Homo sapiens: one gene and its partners. The protein of the gene in region 1 interacts with the protein of each later gene in a pairwise test. Each region holds a gene or a part of one and is shown on either strand. Other genes may lie near its edges.

Region 1 (3,500 bases):
GTAGTTTTAAGTATATCTTTAAAATTATTCAAATATAGCACAGCCTATCTAACAAAGCAGTAGGAATGAATGATAGGAGCTTTACTGGCCAGTGACATAGGTAAAGTAAACAATTGCAGCTAGACAGGCAGTAGGTATTTGAAAACCAAAATTCTTCCTGGGCAATAGGAATGTGGTATTACCAAGAGCTGCTTTTATATTTAAAGGTTTACCTGGACAATGAACTCAAAATATCTTGAGACATTTTATGAGGACTTAATCTAGGCAAAAGGGGAACAAATACCCAAGGTGCAAACTGGCAACTTAGGCATCATCATTAAAAAAAAAATCAAGCAACATATTATGAGCTGTCATTAACATAGTGATGACCCTTTCTGAGCAAAGGAGAGACCAATTCCCCCTTTGCTGTTCTGTGGGTTAAGCCTACTGTAACTGGGGGAAAGCATGAAAATCAGGGAAGATGGTCCCTTGGAAAAGAAAGAAGGTTGAGACTTCCACAGGCCTCAGTCCACCAAGCAGAGAGAGGCAGCTTCTGGGACTGTGTCTTCCAGACAATGTAACAAATTGTGACTCATCTTTATGATCAGGAGAAAGAGTAAGAAAAAAATGCTTATACTTCTTAGTGGCAAACAAAACAAAACAAAACTGCTGTACAATTGAAAATAAATACATTAGATTTTTCTAAGCATTTTAATTTATTCAAAATGAAATTGTTTTGTAAGAACAGTAACACATTTTGCTGATTTCTCCCCAAGTATCCTCCAGTAGTTAAAACAAAACAAAACAAAAAAAGGGCTGTGACTGGGTCAGGGCAGAACTGAACTTGCAGACTAATTCTTGCTCAGACAAATGGTACCGACAAGGATGTGGACTTGAATTTCTGAAAAGTTGCATAGCTTTCTGTTTAACTTTTCTGGGTGCCTGAGTCAATAAAACGTCTTTTTTTTTTCTTTTCATGATATTGTAATAGCTTTAGTTATATTTTCTTCTGTGCACTTTTCAACACCTGTCCACTGTAGAGGACTTTGTGTGTGTGTGTGTGTGTGTGTGTGTGTGAAAGAGTCCAAGGTAACACCCCCACCCCCACCAAGTAAGGGTTTCTTGGTGGGTGCCCTAAAGGGTCCTGCTGGGAGTGTACCTCTAAATGGCCACTTTAAAGACTATCAAACTAATGGAAGAATTGAAGAAGATCTGGATTAGGTTCTCATTCATCAGAGATGCTGTCATAACACCCAAAGAGCAACTTGTACTTCTCAATTACAGTCTGGGTAGCAGAATATTTAAAAAAGTAAAAATGTGGTAAAAATTCTACATCTCTAACTCTGATCACAGCAAACACCCCAGCAGGAATGCTATAGGAAAAAAAAACAACTTGTAAATCTTTTGCCCTGGACTTTGCCAATTAGATGACTTTTTCTCCATGTAAAACAATTATTTTCAAAACAAAAGTTCAACTACTTGAACTTGGGGGGAAACTGTGGGCTACTATTACTGATAACTTTATTCTGAACATGGATAAGGAACCAAACCTATGTGATTTCAGCATTTATGTGAGAAATGTGGGCCAGTATTAATGATCTGGCTCCTGTATTACAAAGCGGCTCTTTAGTAATTATTTACCATTTAATATATCTTGCATGAGATGATTATAAATTATACAAAGATATTTGTGCTTTTCTTTTACTCCCACAGATTTCTATACATATTTGGATGCATTCATGCTTCATGACAAAATCGATTTCTTTACTTACTGAAATATACTTGGTATCTGAATCTCAAATATTTTTAGGTTATGTATAAAATTTTACATATAATGTAGCAGTTCCAGAGGAAAGGATAAGAAAGATGTCCATTTGGCTAACAAACACATGAAATTTAATTTCAATAGAGACATACCTTTGGGTTGGTAAGGCTGGTTTTCCGCTTGACCTGGAGTCTGTGCCAAATCCTGTATGAGGAGAGAAAAGTGTTTTTCTATCAATGCTATGAACAGAGAATTTCACTAAGGGTGGCTTTAAATATACTTCTGATTCATGCAACCACTTTTGTATGAATATTTTGGGGCCCAAATATAAACGCTGAAGAAACTGATGTTACGTAGTGCAGGTTCTCATAAATAGTAATGACTTACATCTTGCTAAATTATCACCAGGGGACAACTTGCTGCCTACTTTGGAAATTACAACTTTTTATCTAATAAAACTAAAATTTAAGCCAAATTTACTATCTTAAAATATCAACAGGTGTTGATCATTTTTTTAAAAAGTACAAATATGAAAGCTCTATGTATTCTGCAGCTAAATCTTAAAGTCTGGTAATTTTGCATGTAGATGGAAAATGAAAAATGTAATATAAAATATGTAAATCTTCAGAAACCTAAGACAACCAGCTGCTATTTTAATATCATTTTCTAGTAACTCAGTTATAATGTAACACATAAGAGACCTTGAGGAACCACATTATAAACTAAAATCCTATCTATATTCATTCTCTTGAGCACAATTATTTATAGAAAAACACTTGATTTAACTCTACAAGTCTAATATGCTATCTGAAATAAACAATATAAGAAATTTTTTTTAGCATTTACAAAATTTATGTTACAGATTTTTTTTGTAAGACAAAGGTAGACTTAGTACTTTGTGATCAATATCAGATAAACACAAGAAATATATATAATCTTTAGATCCTGATATCATTTGTATCATTATAAGTCATTGTCTATGCAGTTGAAAACATAAGGAACTAAGCTGATACAGATGTGAAATTGGTTTCGCTCAAACATCACTGTCTCTTTGTTGAAGCCTCTCTGCCCACATCATAAAAACCTGCACATCATCTCCCTGAAGTCCCTAGCTCCTTTTCCTGCCTTACTTTTCTCCACAGCACTTATTGCCATAGCACTTAGCATAGTATCTGACATACTATTTGTTTTACTAATTTTTTTTTTGTCTTTTGCTTGACTCTTCTCCACTTTAATGAAAGATCTGTGAAGGCAGGAATTTTTATCTGTTTTATTTGTTGCTGTATTTGCAGTGCCCAGCACACCTTACACACTCAAAAATTACCTGTTCAATAAAAGAATGAATAATCTGAATTTAGAAAGAGCACACTCTTAAAATTATCCATAATGTATTTGTATTTTCTTTTTTTTTTTTTTTGATGGAGTCTCGCTCTGTCACTCAGCTTGAAGTTCAGTGGCATGATCTTGGCTCACTGCAACCTCTGCCTCCCAGGTTCAAGCTACTCTCCTGCCTCAGCCTCCCGAGTAGCTGGGATTACAGGTGCCCACAGAGACGGCGTTTTACTATGTTGGCCAGGCTGGTCGCAAACTCCTGACCTCAAGTGATCTGCTCACCCCGGCCTCCCAAAGTGCTGGGATTACAGATGTGAGCCACCACACCTGGTCCATAATGTATTTTCTATTTAATTTAATCCTAAGGCTCTAAAAATATATGAAGAATCCTAAGTGTTGATATGATGTTATATACTGTAAAATT
Region 2 (3,500 bases), on another chromosome or scaffold:
CTTCTTTTAGTGACCATGAGACATGCTAGGTCTCAAAATGAATTAAAAGAAAGTGTCAGACAGAATTCCAGGTCTTTAAAATGTTTACATACTACGAATCCTTGTAGTTGCATAAGCCGGGATCATGGAGTCCACAGTTAACTCAGGATGTAAAATGCAGCCATGTGTATAGGCATCCATTGGCAAGGAGTCAAGCAGCTCTCGGTAATGTTGTACCCGTGGGTAATACATGCTTTCTTTATCAGGCATTAACCTGGGTGTTCTTTCTAAAATACACACACACAAATATTGAAGAAAAAGTTACACATGAGTTGTTACACTCAAAAGCAAAACAAAAACACTATCCACTCATCATTAACATTTTCAACATATCTGTATATTCAAAAAACACTGTCTCCTCACCTCAGACATTCATTCAAAGTTTGAAATGGCCTGATGCACCAGACAAGATCCCAAACCATAATCACATTGGTATTCTCTCATTTCTTCACCTTGCAAACTGCACTCAGCCCTCAAGGCCCAGTTATTTATGCCATTTATTCCATGAAGCATTCCCTAACCTCCTACAACTGCCAACATCTGACTGGCTCACATGTGCCTTCTTCTATACATCCATAACACATTACACACACTCTGTTACAGCCCTTATCACACTGTAATTCATTGCATCTTTTTTCCCCATGACTGTCTTCAGGGAAAGGAACCTGCAATCCAGAGTCTAGCACAGTTCTCCACACACTTGAGGCCCTCAATAAAGTTTGGTTAATTGAATGAGGGCTCATTATGGAAAGATAATCAGGGGCTACTCTTTTCTAGGTGCCAACCAACATCAAGAGTGACCCTACTGACACATGTGAATGTGAATGACAATCTATATGGAACAGGAAAGGCCTTTGCTCAAATATCGCAGGTGCACTTTCCCCAGGAATTTCTAACAATTATCTCTGGAAAGTGGGTTCTACATACATCCTTATTTGCTAGTTAAAATCCAAACTGTAGAGTCCTTGAGGGCAGGGACCATGTACTGCTCTCTGTTAAATCCCCAGTGCCTAGTATAATGTTTGACATGTAGTAGGTGTTTAATAAATTACAATGAATACATTCCAAAATTTCCAATTATTATATAGATTACTTGAGCTGGAGAAGTGCTGCAGGAGTTAACATGTACACTCAGATACAAGGGCTGAAAATTTCTCCCAAGATCCCACAGCTAATTAGAGGCAGAGCTAGAACTAAAGTCATCTGATTCCTAATGTAATGTTCTCTTTGATTATACCATCATAACATTTTCAAAGGATTTTCATTTCATAGACTATCGAAAAAGAATAAAAGTGAAGGATGCAACCCAAAGGTCAGGGCTATGTCCCTTCAGAATCTCTTCCTATCTCTGGCTGTCAAACTGTCCCTAAAAAATGTCAGGTCTAATAACTATCACAATTTCAAAATATTAAGATATCTGCAATAACTTAACCATGAACATATCTGTGAGTTCTATTGGTTATCAAAGCCAGAAGCACTCCTGATATTGCCATGGATTGTGCCTACATTGCTAATGGAAGGAAATAATTCCTTTAAATAGAGATACAATTATTCCCTATCCAAGATCTCAAATCTCCTGAATTCTATTCATAAACCCCTAAGCGCAACAGTTCTCACACTATGGTCTGAGGATCCCTGGGTTTTCCTAAAACATGTTTGGGGGATCTACAAAGATATTTTTATAGAAATACTAAGACGTTAATTACTTTTTCACTCTTATTCTCTCTCAAGTGTACAGTAGAAGTTTCCAGAGGCTACAGGAAACATGACTCTATCACTCTGACAGCTAGTGGGATTGTGCTTAACCAGGCTAATATTTTAAGTTTTCTCAGTTTTGCTTTCTAAATGGTAAATATTGATAGCTATGATCCACATAAACAAATGCTCTCTGGTATCCTCAAAGACAAAGGGGTATAGAGACCAAAAAGTTTAAGAACTAATGCTTTAGGGGTCCAAGAACCTCAGGCTAATAACCCTAAATAGTACATTTTCAAATGCTTCCCAAAAGGTCCAAGTAATGGCTAGTGGCTCTGGCTGCTTTCTGGTACTGGGCCCTGGGGCTTCTCTCCAGAAGAGCATACCATTTCCTTCCTAGGAAAGTGAATGAGAGCAGGAAAAACAATGTCTAATTGCTTTCTGGGGAAGATCCATCAGGCCAAGCCCAAATTCTTCAAGGAGGACAAATGTTTAAATCCATGAAAATAATTTTCTTCTACTCAGTGTGCCGTTACTGTCTAACCATTTCCTGAAGCACTCTGTCAGAGCATGAGATACCCACTGAACCCAAGTTATCTCCCCATCTCTCTTTCTTTGTGCGCATCAAGCATGCCCTCTCCAGTATCACAGGGGCACTGCGCTGCCATCCTCACACTGAAGCACAACAGTATCTGCTGCTTCTGATAAAAGAGTTTTTCAAAGGAAAACTGGGAATTTCCTTTGAATTATAGAGGAGATCTTCCCTCTCAATCCCATCCTATTTTATTTTCCAGTTCTTCCGTAGAGTACCTTTATCAAAATACCAAAAGCAAGAATTTTTTTCTCAGTAATGTACCTCAATCAGGAGTGGGAAAGCAACATAAGGCATAGCGGGGCAGGACAGAGAATTAGGGAGTTTTAAGAAGCAGGCAATGAGAGGAGGTCCCAGCATTGGGGAGTGGGATTGCAACAGTGGAAATGAGGCTTGGTATTAAGCTAGAAGAACAAATAAGTTGGCACAAGATCCGACTTGCCGGAAGAACTGAGTAGGGGAAAAGTTTTATATTACACATAAATTTAGGCAGCAAATTATAAACCAGCAGATAGACATAAAGCAGAAAGATTTGATAAACAGCAGAGGAAACCAAAAGAAGCAAAAAATAAAATCAGAAAGAAACAATAAAAGCATTCTGCAGCCATGTAATGGAGACAAATGGGCCTCTACATTCTCAAGTCCCTGTAATGCTGAGTAAAATAACAATGGCTCTGAGCCATTTTTTTAAATTACATTTGGTTTTCCCAAGAGTAAAACATAAAAAGAAATTAGGGGCTTAAAGGCATAAGTTTTCATTATTTTACAAAATTCACTACTCTGGTTACCCATCTTTCCTAGTAAAGGCAGATAAAGGAGGCATTATTATGCCTTGTTTTCAAGAAAGACTCCCCTAGGTCTACTTGTACAACTTTCAAGTCTCCCTTACTACTAGCTCAATGGAAACAGATTAGATTTCATTCCTCACTCTAGCCCTTTGCTGTTTATTTTACTTAGACTGTATAGTGATTGCATCAGTATATAATATGCATAATACAGCTGAATAATATTGTACCCTTCAACTAGTCACACACTAGGCTATTTTTAAAAAATTCAATAATAGGCTGGGCACGGTGGCTCATGCCTGTAATCCCAGCACTTTGGGAGGCCAAGGCAGGCAGATCACGAGGTCAGGAGATCGAGAGACCATCCCGGCCAACATGGTGAAACCCCG
Region 3 (3,500 bases), on another chromosome or scaffold:
ATGGTCTCTATATCACTGTCCATTTCCCTGCGAACACTGACACAGAACAGATTATTTGCTACAAATCACAACCAATAAAGAACTCCTTACCAATCATGTTTACCTGCATATTTGTTTCGGGTATGTTTTCTTAAAGAGAGGAAGAGCGGCATGGGTGGTTAAAACAACACGAATATATTTTAAAACAGGTTTACAGTTTATTTGAAACTTAGATATTTTGGAAACAATACTAAATTCAAAAAACAAATGAAGCCCCCCGAATGCCTGATTTTGGCGTAATTTTCAAACTGTTCTGCCCTGTGCCTTTAAAACAACAATCACTTTCATCTCTCTCCATACCGTGGACTGACCACATACACTGCTCGGCATTTTGAACCTGATAAGAACTGCTTTCTCTCTAAGCTTTCATGGCTTGGAAACAATATTTAGTAATCTCCCATCAAACTCCCACAATTTCAAGTTTAAAGATAATTTCACTTATGGGGAGTTACTATTATGTGTCTGTTATATTCAGACATAAAACTGAGTGTAGAATCAATAAAATTATCACTATTATGAAATTCAAAGTTCACAATCTGTGGAAAAAAGAGGTTAAAAAAAAACAAGAAGTAACCATGAACCACATAAGAAACTCTCATGGCAGGGAAAATATTCCCTCAGGAAAGTAAATGATAAATATCTTTACATTATGTCATTGAGCTGTTATCATTCACATCATTTCATTTTCAATTTTAAGGAAAAAAATACTTACTTCTGAACGCTTGTTCCAATATTAGCTAAAAATTCTTCCAGTTGTTCATTAAGATTTTCAGAACCCATCTTAAAGAAACTTATCTGGAGAGTGGGGAGTGGGGGGAATTGAACAATACAAAAATAGATTAAGCAATACTTAAAGTAAATCATATAAACAATCTCTAAGACACATGGTTAAGTAAAAAACAAAGGAATATTCCCATTTGTGTAAAAATACATTGTAGTTTGTGACTTCTACTGCACAGGGAGCCATTAAGGAAGTTAGACTTAAATTCCACTGCATATCCTTTTATATTTTTTGAATTGGAACAAGTAATATATACATATGGTTAACAATCTTTTAAAATTGGAAAATAAATTTTAAAGTATTTCCAATAAATTATATAAAGTATTTCATGTTTACTACAAAGATAAGTTTTCTATCTGAGGAATAATCAGTAAAGTACTCTTTTACCTAAATAGATTCAATTTTTTTTTTTTTTTTTGAGACAGGGTCTCGTCTGTCATCCAGACTGCACAATAAAACCTCACTGCAGCCTCAGCCTCCTAGGCTCAAGGGATCCTTCCATTTCAGCCTCCCAAGTTGCTGGGATCACCGAGGCATGCTACCAAGCCCAGCTAATTTTTTCATTTTTTGTAGAGATGGGGTCTCCCTACGTTGCTGAGGCTAGTCTCAAACTCCTGGACTCAAATGATCCTCCTACCTCGGCCTACCAAAGTGCTCGATTATAGGCATAAGGCACCGTGCCTGCCCTCAATTTTCTTTAAACTCTTGATTTTTAGGAGACTGACACTTTGTCTTATACTACCCAAATTTTCTAGCCCCCTTCCTGATGTACTCTTTGGGCACGTTGGAGTTCATCTATTATTTTTAACTCAGGAAGTATGCAAGGAATATGGGATAAACTCAAACTTGTTTATTCTTTTTCAGATCTATTATGAAGCAAGTGTTTAGTTGAAGCTCTAGCAATAGGTGTAACTCTGAAATTCATTTAGTTCTCTCAGTCCCCAGCTATGGTGAACAAGTGGTTTCATTTACCTAAAATATTTGAAATCTTCATTTGCAAGGAAAACCATTCTTCCTAACTTCCTTAAAATAATAGTCTGATGACATTTTAAAAATAACTTCTTAAAACACAGACATAAACAAGGATGTTGAAAATAGTTTATAATACCCTTATACTTAATGTAAATATCAAGCTTAATATAAAACTTTTAGGACAGTTATAATCCAAATACAGTACAGTATTTACCTGAGCTTGCATGTACCCAAGTAGAGGTTCTAACAATGCTATTTTCTTCTTGTACTGAAGAGTATTTAATGCACAAAAATAATGCATCATGGTCTGGTGTTGTTTCTTTCTGGATGTGTACACATCTTCTGTTACTTCATACTTCACCTTTGAATGAAAAGATTTAAATAATTAAGTAAATAATCTGCTATTATTTACTTAATTTTGTATTATCTTCAGTAGGAGCTGTGGAGAAGAGCCTACCCAAGGAATTGAGTATCACAAGCAATTGAGCATTAATGTTCCTGTTTTCTGATCTTTTAGAAATCCTTCAACATACTGGTTAAGCAAATTTTCCTGTTTAACTTCCAACCACATAATTTACAAAATGCACATTGAGCCCAGGCGTGGTGGCTCATGCCTGTAATCCCAGCACTTTGGGAGGCCGAGGCGGGACGATCACTTGAGGTCAGGAGTTTAAGAACAGCCTGGCCAACATGGTGAAACCGACTCTATTAAAAATGGAAAAAAAAATTAGCCAGGTGCAGTGGTACACACCTATAATTCCAGCTACTGGGGAGGCCGAGGCATGAGAATAGCTTCACCCTGGGAGGGGGAGGTTGCAGTGAGCCAAGATCACACCACTGTACTCCAGCCTGGGTGACAGAGAGAGACTGTCTCAAAAAAAAAAAAAACTGCATATTGAAAACAGAATTCTGTACGTAACTAAGAATGGTACAATAACTAAACTAAGCATGGCAGAGAAAGCTTACGACAAGGAGGAATGGCAGACAATTGTTTGTTATTAGCTTAGTCATTAGTCTTTGACTTTGATCAGTTCACAGCATACCATTCTCCCCTCCTGGTTCTCTCCCTATCAGTCTTCCTCTCTTGCACTTGCTTGTCTTCCTTCACCCATACTTGAAATACGTGTGCTCCCTAGAGTTCTTTTATTCAGACAACAAATATTTATTGAATACCTATTATGTAATAGGCATTAGGTTCTTCTGCCTTCCTGCTTTCCTTAGAATCCTCAAGTACGAAGAATATTCTAATATTCCAATACACCAATGACTCAATGACTCACAAATTTTATCTCCTCCCTCTCACCTTCCCAAGTGACAGAGTAAACACATCTCCAGCTGGGTTCTTTATGTGTGTTTATGTGCTAAAAATGTACAAAACTGAAGATAGTTTTGTACACAAAACCTGTTCTTCTGCTTTGTTTCTTACCTTTCTTAATTACTACAGGATCCATCCAGACATCCAAGAAATCTAGGACTCATTTTTTATTCCTCCTATTACCACAAGTCTTGTCAATTCTACTTAAAAAAATATCTCCCAAAAGTACTCCTTCCTCTCCATTTTCAGTAACAACCTTAGCTGAGGCCTTCATTGTATCTCTGCAAACTATTCCAATTCCTTTCACTGGATATCCTCTAGTCTTGTCCTCTTCACATTTTCATTAGTATGTTTGTTCTATAACACAATTGCATGATGTTATTCACCTACTTA
Region 4 (3,500 bases), on another chromosome or scaffold:
AGGGTACAGACTCACTCCACCTTCACTCACCTGTAGAAGGCCAGCTGGAGGGCCACCTGGATGAAGGCATCAGGGCTGCATTTCTGCTTCTTAATGAATGTTTTCCCATAGTTGTCAAACTTATAGACAATGAAGTCAAGGTTCTTTACTATTCTGAGGAAGAAAAAGAAAAGATGTTTTTATTGCATGCAAAACAGTATGCATGCATCTGGGGTTTCCCCGGGCTTCTAGAGCCTGGTCTGTGTCCTAGCGTTCTGGAAGGTGCGGACGTAGTCCCTGCCCTTCAGGAGTGCACTGAGGTGTCAGAGACATGCCTTGACCTATGAAAGTGTCAGAAGACAAACCAGGCCAGGACTACTATGACCCAAGGTGAGCTCAGCTGAGTGGGGTGTCGGCCCTGCTCTGGAGAGTGGGTGGGGAGGTGGGCCTGGCTGTGTTAGTGAGTCAGGGATTAACTGTGACACAGGTGACATGCCCGGGATTTTGTAATTCACTGTCGGAGTAACAGGAACATTTTCCAAGTCTGCACTGAGACTCTGGAGCACTGGCTGACCCTCATATTGAACAATCTCCTCCTCCATCAGGAGTCTGGGGTCTGAGCTGACTGCCCACTGGAGCAGTGTCTGGCAAGGTCTATGTGCCTCCCCACTGGAGAGCGCATAGCCTGAGTGGGAACCCCGAGCCCACACGCACACCTTCTGTCGGGACTCCATGCTCCCTGCCTGCCTCTCCTTGAAGTATTCCTCCTGCTCACAGCAGCTCAGCTCTCGGTGGGGCCAGGTGCTAGGAACACAGGGGGACTTGGAGGAGACCCAGTTCCCATGAGTACTCGCTCCTTAGACCTACCTGTTGACAGACGTCTGGGACAGACTGAGCTCACTATCACCACAGCCACCTGGAAATCTCTCCCCCAAGCTGTGCCCACTCGGGCCTCACCCACTTGTATGGGCCCCTCAGGACCCCCAGGAAGAAGCCTCCTTCTTCCCCATCCATGGGCCTTTCCTGGCTCTCCTCAGCCTCTGGAGGGTGGAGCTGGGGGCCTTGGGGAATGTGGGGTCTGCTCAGGTCCCTGGAAGTGAGTGGACTCCTTTACCCACTGAGGACTCAGCAGCCCACCAGCTCACTGCCTTGGCCCCTGACTTAGCTCCTGAACAACCCTGCAAAGCTGAGATGTGAGCACCACTTTATAGAACACCTGAGGCCCCTCCATGCCCACTGAAGCCAGGCAACCTCTCCAGCAGCTCCCAGTGGATGGGTCCTTCCCGCTCTTCAGCTTCCCAGCCTGGCCACACTCTGTCCTGCTCACATGTGCCCTTCCCACAGCCTCCTCAGGGGCGTCCCCATACCCCCTGCACAGAACCCTCCAGTGGCAGGGCAGGCTCTAGGCCCATAACAGGACAGTGACACTCATCACAGTGTGGCCCAACTTCCTTTTTGTGGCCCCACTCTGGCCATTCTCTCACTTGCTGGTCTCCAAACCAGCCTTCATCATTATGAACTTGTACAAGCTTGAAGAAGCTGCCTTTCTGCCTCTTCCCCATCTGCTTGCACCATGAACTCCTATCCATCCTTCAAGGCCCGTCTCTACAAGGCCCTCCCTCACAGTCCTGACAGAGTTCAGCTTCTATATTTTTGTGGGTTCAGGTCAGCATGGCTGTTTCTGCTTTTGGCATTAATCTTACTGTATCACATGTTTTGGCCTGGGAGTCTACTTATTCCACTCAAATATGGAGTGCAGGTCCCATGGTACTTAACTTTCTGTGTTCTCAGAGCCTTACCACGGGCCGGGTGCACACCAGAGCTCTGCACATGTTTGATGAATGAATGAGCAAACCAGTGAATGAATGCATTCGTGCTTGCTTACTGAATGGGAGAATCAACAGCTACAGTGCAGACGTGGTTGCCAGGATGTGGCTGCCACCACTGCTTGCTGCTGCCCCAGGCCCTCCTGCCTGGGTCCCGTTAGGGCCTGAACGGCCCCCTCCCCTTGGGGAAAAAGGCCCCTTTGTCAAGTTGCACTGTACATTCAAGCAAATTTAAATAGCTTGAATTCAAATGACCTATTCAAACCAGTTGTTTATTACTCCCCCTAAAGCAGGGGATGATTTCCCGGCCTTGACTCTGCTCAGTCAGGTGAAACTGAAAAAAAAAAAAAAAAAAAAAAAAAAAATAGCCCTGCGTTTGCATTTTAGAGAAATGATGGATACTTCAGCAAGGTTATTTCCCCAGAGTTGTATCTCTCCTTTAATTTGACTACATGAGGGATGGGGACGAGGTGGAGCCCAAGGAGAGGCAGAGGAGCTGGGGTCTTTGGAAACTTCCAGGGAGCCTTGGGAGCTAGTAGGCAAGGGCGGGGTGGTCCCTAGGGGACCCCTCAAAGGAGACTTCGGTTATCCTTACCGTTGAAGTTTTTCTGCCGAGGAGGCTAAGTGGCCTTGAATTTCCGGGGAGCATTTCCACCGCAGCCTCCGGGGGGCGGGGAGCTCGCTGACGGAGTCTGCTCGGATCAGCTTCCTGCTGCTCTGCGTCCTGCGGGCACAGAGGCAACCTCCTGAGGCTCTGCGGCCAGACAGCTGTGGGAGGCATCTCTTCTTTGCTCTGTGCAATCATCTTAGCTGTCAGTGTTTGCGGCCATGGAGTTTCAGGGGGTACGAGCTGCCCCTGAACCACCGTGCAGATGAATAAACTGAGGCTCAGAGAGGCCACCAAAATCATTAAGTGGCAGGGCCAGGGCTCCATCCAGTTCCGCCTGACTCCAAAACCCATTATTTCTTTTCATTGTTTTCCTATTAGACCATGTTACACCCTTACAGAAGACTTGGAGAGAAATTTAAGAGCAAGCTGTGTTGTTCTCTTCTACAAGGTTTGTGCCTACTAGGCTTGGTTTAGGTTTCAGTAACCCTGAGTTTCATGGAAGAAATTGAAGACTTGGATGCAGGGAGAAGATTCTAGGAGAGAATGGGTAAAATTGGGAATAGAGGAAGGAATACCATGTGTTTAGGGCACAGAGGAACCCTGCTGGGGAGCTAAGGAGGGACCCAGCCTTGGGATTTGGAAGCAGTGAGACTCAGAGAACTCCCCCTGTGCTGGGGCAGCCGTGGGCCTGGCCCTGACTCAGGATAAGCAATAGGTATCGATGTAGGCTTCCCCTCTCTCAAGGCAGAGGTTCCTGAGAATTCCTTGCCATGCTTCTCCCTGACTGCCGTAAATCTGCTGCCTCCTATCCATGGCCCGTGAAGCACATGATGTCGCATACAAAGCTGGGTTTCAAATTCATCGTGTGTGTGTGTGTGTGTGTGTGTGTGTGTGTATAGTACACATTTTTTTCAAATTCATCTTTTGTTAAGACGCTTTCCAGACTGACACAGCCCCCAGCGACCACCCACATTTTTTTGGGCCCAGCATGGCAGCCCTGGGATCCAGACTCACACGTGCTTGAGCAGATGCTCAGTGCACTGCACCAGGACGATGCCATCGAATGGGGAGTGTTCGCACACCAC
Region 5 (3,500 bases), on another chromosome or scaffold:
AGTGGGCAGATCACCTTAGGTCAGGAGTTCGAGACCAGCCTGGCCAACATGGTGAAACCCCGTTTCTACTAAAAATACAAAATTAGCTGGGCGTGGTGGCGCATGCCTGTAATCCCAGCTACTCGGGAGGCTGAGACAGGAGAATTGTTTGAACCTGGGAGGCAGAGGTTGTGGTGAGCTGAGATCACGCCATTGCACTCCAGCCTGTGCAACAAGACCAAAACTCCGTCTCATAAAAAACAAAAACAAAAAGAAAACACAAACAAAAAACCCCCACAAATATCCTGGTGATTCTGCCCAATTTAAGGTTCCTATTAGCTCTAGATTGTCTTTAAAATAGAGTCTAAAGGCACGACATATACCTCCCTTTCCTATCTGGTCCCAACCTGCTCCTCAATTCTCAACTCTGCCCACCATTTCCACCTCTGATTTCTAAGCTCCAAAACCAAAATACTTCATATTTCCCAGAACGCTTTTATGACTGGGCCTTTGCACTTGCCACTCCTCTCTCTGAAGTGCTTCCTGCCCATAAAGTAAACCATACTGTTTTCTTCCTCTGCCTTTCATGGTGCCTCTACATCTTTTAGGACATTTATCGGATTATACAAGAACATGTTAATATACCTGCCTATCCCTTTCACCTCACAACAGACTGACTGTCTTGCTCCAACCCTTAGCAGTTCCCAATGTCATCATCAAGGACCATCCTCACCAGCAGTGCCACAATATTCAATGTTCAAGGCATTATGTAGACACAAGGCTGCATGGTTAGGAAGTAGTAACTGCTCAAACAATATTAAATAAAGAAATGTATGAATGACCTGCATGACTTAACCTGAAATCACTGAGAGAAAAGAAGCCAGAAACTATGCTTCTGGATTGCCCTGATCACAACTAGAAGTTCCTGCCAGAGTGCAGTGCTTTGAAATCACGTATGGGGTTACAACCTCAGAAAACAAGACTCAGGCTTGGTGTGGCTCAAGCCTGTAATCCCAGCACTTTGGGAGGCCAAAGAGGGCACGTGGCTTGAGGCTAGGAGTCCATGACCAGCCTAGGCAACATACTGAGACCTTGTCTCTACCAAAAAAAAAAAAAAAAAAAAAAAGGCCAGGCACAGTGGCTCACGCCTGTAATCCCAGCACTTCGGAAGGCCAAGGCGGGTGGATCACCTGAGGTTGGGAGTTCGAGACCAGCCTGACCAACATGGAGAAACCCCATCTCTACTAAAAATACAAAATTAGCCAGGCGTGGTGGCACATGCCTGTAATCCCAGCTACTCAGGAAGCTGAGGCAAGAGAATCACTTGAACCCAGGAGGCGGAAGTTGCGGTGAGCCAAGATTGCACCATTGCACTCCAGCCTGGGCAACAAGAGCAAAATTCCGTCTCTAAAAAAAAAAAAAAAAAAAAAAAAAAAAAATTAGCCAAGGGTTGTGGTATGTGCCTGTAGTCCTAGCTACTTGGGAACCCCAGAGAAGATCGCTTGAGCCCAAGAGTTTGAGGTTGCAGTGAGCTGTGATGGTGCCACTGCACTCCAGCCTGGGCAACAGAGGAAGAACCTGTCTGATAGGGGAAAAAAAAGCAAAAAAGAAAACAAGAAGATTCACTTGCTTGTGTTTGCAGCTGATCCAGTCCAAAACTTTGCTGATAAACAGATGTGTTGTTTTCTGTTAATAACAGGTGTAGCATCCAAATGAAGAAAGTCTGCCAATCCTTAACTTAAAACTCAATTTAAGAGCTTCTGAATGTTCTTTCATTTCCTTTTCCTTTCCTTTAACTTAAAATTCAATTTAAGAGCTTCTGAATGTTCTTTCATTTCCTTTTCCTTTCCTTTCACATTGTTTACTGCCATCCAGATTGAAAGCTGGCTGAAACCCTAGTTATTCACATTCCCTTTAGCGTTAACACTACAGAAAGTATTATGTCTTTGGATATTAGTTCAATACCCTCAATTTTATAGATAACTAAAAGCCCCAAACATTACCTAAGGCCTCACAAGTATTTTAGAGGCTTAATTCCAAAATTTCTGGCTTAAAGTTTGGTGTTTTTTCCACTAACTGGAGTCAAATGACTAAAAAAGTAATATGAAATAAACTTCCACATTAAAAACAATTTCTGCATTTAAAATACTTTTCTGAATTATAAAAGTACTCTACGAAGTCATTCCTTTTTTTCACTACTCAAATACTGAAAGGTTCTCCGATAAGTCACCATCTGTGATACACACTTTTTTCTATACTCCAGCTCTGTGAAATATTAGAAGAGAGAAGAGTAGAAAGATCACTCAATTTATTAAAATTATTAGAAGACCACAGAGCTGGGATCTTTCCTCAAAAATTCTTACCCAGAGTTAATCCTGTAGTTATAGTTGTTGCTATTCCTGGGGACAAAAAGAGAAATAAAATTTAATCATCAATGAAGATGACATTCTTTAGGTTTACCTGTCATAAGGGAAAGACTTAAAATCACCCTCAGGGAGTGACAACACTTCTAATTAGAACAATACATATCATAGTATCTGCCACTAATCACGCATTTTTCCCATAGCACTGGTTTTCATATTACAAGCCATACATAATTTGATTAAGGAATAAAATTTATAAAATGCAAATAACTATTGCTTATAACAAAATTAAGCAAGACCAAAAAAAGCAACTCCAAACAAAATGCTATACTGAGCTGTCTCAAGCAGCTCACTGACTAATCTGCTCATATTTATTCCTGTAGTTCTTCCATTTTCTAGATGTGGCTGTGAAATGTGCTGCACTCAAAGCTGGAAGATCAACGCAAAAAGTAGTAAGAATGACCAAGAGGCTCTAAGGGTAGAAAATAAGGGGTAAATAAAGAAGCAAACTTTTTAAATGGTCAGCTCCAGTGAAACATTATTTTTCCAGCTGTACTAAAAACAAAAACTTTCTATTGTTTTGAAACCTTCAAGTCCTTTACCTATTGCCCTTTTCCCACTTTGTTTTAATAATACAAAAATGTAAAACATCTCTTAGGAACGTAAATTATAGACCAGGCATGGTAACTCAGGCCTATAATCCCAGCACTCTGAGAGGCCAAAGCAGGAGGATCACTTGACCTCAGGAATTTAAGACCAGGAGGAGACCTCTTCTCTACAAAAAGTAAAAAAGTAAAAAAAAAAAAAAAAAAATTAGCCAGGCGTGGTGGTGCACACGTGTGGTCCCATCTACTCAGGAGGCTGAGGTGGGAGGATCACTTGGGCCCGAGAGGCTGCAAGGCTACAGTGAGCCATGATCATGCCACTGCACTCCAGCCTAGACAACAGAGCAAGACTGTGTATCTAAAAAAAGAAAAAAAATAGAAATTATGTTACAGTAAGGGTGCTGATTATCTCACGTATGTTAATGTTCCAAATTGATAAAGCTGGCTTAAACCACAATCTCCACTAAGGAAAAACACTACATTATATAATCCAAAAATTTAAATTAATATTTGTATGTTTTCCTTCGTTATATCAGAGTAGATGACAGTCAAT
Region 6 (3,959 bases), on another chromosome or scaffold:
AATGGAAACTCCTACCTTTCAGTGGAGCTTCAGTTCTAACCCTATCAAATTATTAGTGTGTAAGTCTCAATCTTCAACTAAGCTGGGAGGATTCAGATCCCAAGACTGGCCTTACCAGAGACCCCTGCCAGCCCCAGTGAGGTCGAGTAAACAACAGTCGTTTGTGCTGGTACCAAGGCTCCAACTATTGATGCCACTACTTAGTGGCAATCCCTGAAGGCCTGCTTCAGGTCCTATCTGGGTTGCCAAAATGTCAACCTCAAATAATGAAATTCAGGAAATATGATTAAGTATAGAGTTTATTTGAGCCCAAAGCTTGAGGATGGCTCCCTGGGCACATGCCCCTAGGTTGCCCTGAACATATGTTCCCATTAGCAGCAGTCACAGTGGGGTTTTAAGGAAAAGGAAGAGGCAGTCCCTAAGTTGTTAGCAAGAATTTGCATTAAAATAACAGAAGGTGCTGATTGGCTATGCATCGTTCTTAGCATCACTAATTCCATGTGAACAAGAAGATAATGGGTGAGGCAGCCTGTCAGGAGCAAAAATTCCATCAAACAATTGCCCTGGACAGTTGCTTCTATGGTGGAAGAGGCGCTGAATGAAGTCCCACACTCCTGCCTCTCTGGGCCTGATCATTCTGCACACCTCACAGAGCTCAGACTACCCTATTTTTCTTTTCTCAGGAAAAATGGGTGGATGGTACTGGTGGCCCTGCCTGGTCTGATCATCTACCCTGGTTCTAGTAACCAGATTAATTCCTTGTAATAGAGCTGTGGATTTCAGTTCAGTTCCCACGCACAGACCTTACCTCTGCTTTCTCCGACCACTTCTCCCCCACCCCAGGTACTTCACAGCTGAGAGCCTCTTGCCAGCTTCCAACTCTCCAGCAGTCTTTGTTCCCAGACCGTGTCCTGAGGCTGCACTTTCTGGACATGCCCACCTGCTGGACTGGCATCTGTCTTGTCACTTCTCTGGCCTCACCTCTGCGAAAGGAACACAAAAGTCAGGACCCCAGTTCACTCTGTCAAAAGGAAAAGAATGAGCTGAAAGCTGAGTCATGTAAGCAGCTGCCTTTCCTTTCGTTCCTAAGCAGACGGCTACAGATAGAAGGTTCAACATCCGCTTCTCTTATGTAAAGTGCTGATTTGCTGAGGAGTGAGCTGTACACAGTCGACTGTTCCCAACCTGCTTCTTTTCTCTTGCAACGTGTGGATTACCACACTGTTCCGCTTTCCCCTCCAGCCCACTTTTCCCCTTTAAATACTGAAGCCCTCAAAGTCATCTTTGGAGAAAGGCACAGACCACAGACTGTTTCTGTGATACCGTGTTTTTTTTCCTCCCAGGCATTGTCCTTAACCTTGGCAAAATAAACTTCTAAATTGATTGAGCCCTGTCTCAAGATACTTTTTGGTTTAAACCTCTGAGGCCCTACTGTTTCTAATACAGGTTTCCAGTTTGCTCATCTTTCCCAGGTAGGAAGATGCTCTGTTGCCAAGAGAAATGCAATTCTAACACGCAAATCCGCCCAAACACTAGAGCTCAGCATTCAGCTCTAGCCGAGCTAAGAGGATCCCATGGTCCTGCCCCACAGTCTGGGGCTCATCTTGTGGAGGAGGTAAGTAAAATAGGCCCTGTCTCTCTGACTTCTACCTAATCAGAGTTGATAGTTGCGTTGGAAATTAGGTAAATCGCAGGTGAGTTGATGAATGTGGGAAACCAGATGAAAATGGCTGCTTGATGGGGTTAAAACGCAGGAGAGGAATAGAACCCTTCCAACGGAATGGTTCCAGCCTTGTGACATGAGGAGACTGAAAGGGTATCCCAGAGGCAGGTCACTGGCCTTCCAGCTCCACCTGTGGGTGGCCTTGGCCAGGCAACTGCAAGAGTGCAGGGCCCCGGGGAGGTCGCACCTGGCAAGCGCTGAGGGAGGGTAAAGCGGAGAGGGGTGTGAGAAGAGAAAAACAACACAGAGCGTCCGAGCTATGTGAGGCGTGCGAGGTTAATCCGGCCCGGAGAGACAGGTCTATGCGGCTTCAGCGGTCCCCACCCATGCCTGGCAATTGTTTAAAGGCACTATTGCTCCGGACCCGCTGCCTTCACCCATGAACTTCCTTTCCTGGAATTATGATATAAAGAACAACGTACAGCCAATTAATAGCTTGTTATTTTCATGTAAATTCTTGGTGAGCTATTTAAGAACTGCCCCCCTCTTAAGCTTTATAAACCCACTTGTCACTGTTGCAAATCCTATGTTCAGGGCAACTTGAAGCTATGCTCCCGGGTTGCAATCTTCAAACTTGGCCCAAATAACCTCTCTACTTATATCAAGTTTGCCTCAGCTTTTTTTTTCTTCTAGGTCGACGGTTCCCGCCCCGCAAGGGTGCAGGGAAGGGGACGCCCGCACTTCCTAGTGCTCCCTTAGCTGGGGTCGAGCTGAGCGCCCCCCACCGAGCCCCAGGCGGCTCTGTGGAGAAGCCCCTCGGCCCCGGGTTCGGTCTGCACTGCCAGCCCCCAGTCCCCGGCGCGCAGGATCCAGCAGGGCCAGCGCCGGGCGGGCGAGAAGGCGAGAGAGCTAGGGCCGGGCGGGGAGGGCACCGGCAGGGGGCGCGGGTTCCCAGGACCGAAAAGGCGGAGCCTCCCACGCGCACTACGTGCTCCCTACGCGCATGCGTCCCGCCCACGCGCAGGCAGCACCTCGCCTGACTGGGTAGCGCTGCCACGTCGGGGCGGGGAAGAGCGTCGTCGCGTCCGGGTGACGTCTCCCGCGGGCGTCGGCAGGGTCGGCGGCGTCGGCAGCAGTGTCGACGGCAGCGGCGGCGGCGGGTGGGAAATGGCGGAGTATCTGGCCTCCATCTTCGGCACCGAGAAAGACAAGTGAGTGGGAGCCCCCCGCCGGGGGTTGGGCGCGATCGGGGCGCAGGGTGGTTGAGGCGGTGGGAGGGCGACCGGGGAGGCCCAGGCGGGCCGGCGCGGCGGTGGCGGGGGAGGGGCGCGCGGCGGGAAGGAGCGGTGGCCCTTCCGGCCCCTTGCGCGCCCTCCGGAGCCGCCGCCTCGTGGGCCGCGCGGCGGAAAAATGGAGCGGGGAGAATGAATGGGGTCTCTTTTCGGGGCGCCGCGGCCGAGCTTTCTCCGGCCTTGGGGTCCGAACTGGCTGATCGCCCGACGTCCGGGCCTCCGAGTCGCCGGCTCCCGGAAGCCGCCTCGAGCCGCGCTGAAAGTTGCCTGGAGCATCCGGGCCTTTTGGACGTGGACACGTTTGTTCCAACTTTCGGCTGTGAATGTCCTGTCGAGCAAGCTCTGGTACCAGCCTCGCCAGTATTCAGTCGCTTATCTAACTTAGGGTCCTAAGCGTTGGTGTTTTATCCACTTAGCCAGCCTCTTGCCTGTTTAAGCGACCGCTGGGCCGGCAGTAAGGAGATATGACGAGAAAAAGTATGGTGGAGACTACTGGATTAACTATCTAACCACAAGAGACGTGATCCGCTCTTAACATACAGGTGCTCCTGGATTTACCATGGGATTGCGTTCCGATAAACCCATCATGAATCGAAAATGCCTTTAATACCCCGATAAACCCATCATCTAAGTTGAAAATTTGTAAGTCGGTGACTGTTCTTGAAGACACAATTCTGATATAAGGAAAAAGATGTTTTGATTTTTTCCTTAAGGTTGCATGCCTTCCCTAATCAATCGTTAGGTTAAAAGCAAAACATTTAATTTCAGCTTTAATTGCCACCTTGGCACGTACTAATTTCCAGTGAGTTGGCTGTAGTTTAGACTAAATGGAATGTTTTCAGACGTTTGAAGGATAATTCTTACTTTGAAAACCTAAAGACTCAGCATCTGGCTTAATCTACTCTTTAGTTATCTTGGCATTCTTCAGTGCCATACAAAGTTAACATGACTTTATGTTTTCAATGATAAACCCCTAAGTTTGTCATAGATGTTTTTAATGCCAC

What was found.
Region 2: the proteins of SCAPER (region 1) and GDAP1 interact in binary tests that used the Homo sapiens proteins (3 or more experiments, as listed by UniProt).
Region 3: the proteins of SCAPER (region 1) and APPL1 interact in a two-hybrid assay, tested with the Homo sapiens proteins (one large-scale study listed by BioGRID and IntAct).
Region 4: the proteins of SCAPER (region 1) and CHAT interact in binary tests that used the Homo sapiens proteins (3 or more experiments, as listed by UniProt).
Region 5: the proteins of SCAPER (region 1) and NUP58 interact in binary tests that used the Homo sapiens proteins (3 or more experiments, as listed by UniProt).
Region 6: the proteins of SCAPER (region 1) and alpha-crystallin A2 chain interact in binary tests that used the Homo sapiens proteins (3 or more experiments, as listed by UniProt).

Annotation. Positions count from the first base shown.
Region 1 is NC_000015.10:76,349,341-76,352,840, forward strand, and holds part of SCAPER (S phase cyclin A-associated protein in the endoplasmic reticulum), read right to left. Parts: intron 1,949-3,500; coding exon 1,897-1,948; intron 1-1,896. UniProt on the Homo sapiens protein: CCNA2/CDK2 regulatory protein that transiently maintains CCNA2 in the cytoplasm.
Region 2 is NC_000008.11:74,356,903-74,360,402, reverse strand, and holds part of GDAP1 (ganglioside-induced differentiation-associated protein 1), read right to left. Parts: intron 267-3,500; coding exon 93-266; intron 1-92. UniProt on the Homo sapiens protein: Regulates the mitochondrial network by promoting mitochondrial fission.
Region 3 is NC_000003.12:57,244,729-57,248,228, reverse strand, and holds part of APPL1 (DCC-interacting protein 13-alpha), read right to left. Parts: intron 2,154-3,500; coding exon 2,007-2,153; intron 835-2,006; coding exon 752-834; intron 37-751; coding exon 1-36. UniProt on the Homo sapiens protein: Multifunctional adapter protein that binds to various membrane receptors, nuclear factors and signaling proteins to regulate many processes, such as cell proliferation, immune response, endosomal trafficking and cell metabolism.
Region 4 is NC_000010.11:49,648,537-49,652,036, reverse strand, and holds part of CHAT (choline O-acetyltransferase), read right to left. Parts: coding exon 3,430-3,500; intron 2,530-3,429; coding exon 2,401-2,529; intron 154-2,400; coding exon 31-153; intron 1-30. UniProt on the Homo sapiens protein: Catalyzes the reversible synthesis of acetylcholine (ACh) from acetyl CoA and choline at cholinergic synapses.
Region 5 is NC_000013.11:25,308,125-25,311,624, reverse strand, and holds part of NUP58 (nucleoporin p58/p45), read right to left. Parts: intron 2,379-3,500; coding exon 2,343-2,378; intron 1-2,342. UniProt on the Homo sapiens protein: Component of the nuclear pore complex, a complex required for the trafficking across the nuclear membrane.
Region 6 is NC_000021.9:6,498,044-6,502,002, reverse strand, and holds the start of alpha-crystallin A2 chain, read right to left. Parts: upstream 2,801-3,959; 5' UTR 2,230-2,800; intron 984-2,229; 5' UTR 809-983; intron 1-808. Other genes in the region: splicing factor U2AF 35 kDa subunit-like protein, read left to right, coding at 2,831-2,874. UniProt on the Homo sapiens protein: Contributes to the transparency and refractive index of the lens. In its oxidized form (absence of intramolecular disulfide bond), acts as a chaperone, preventing aggregation of various proteins under a wide range of stress conditions.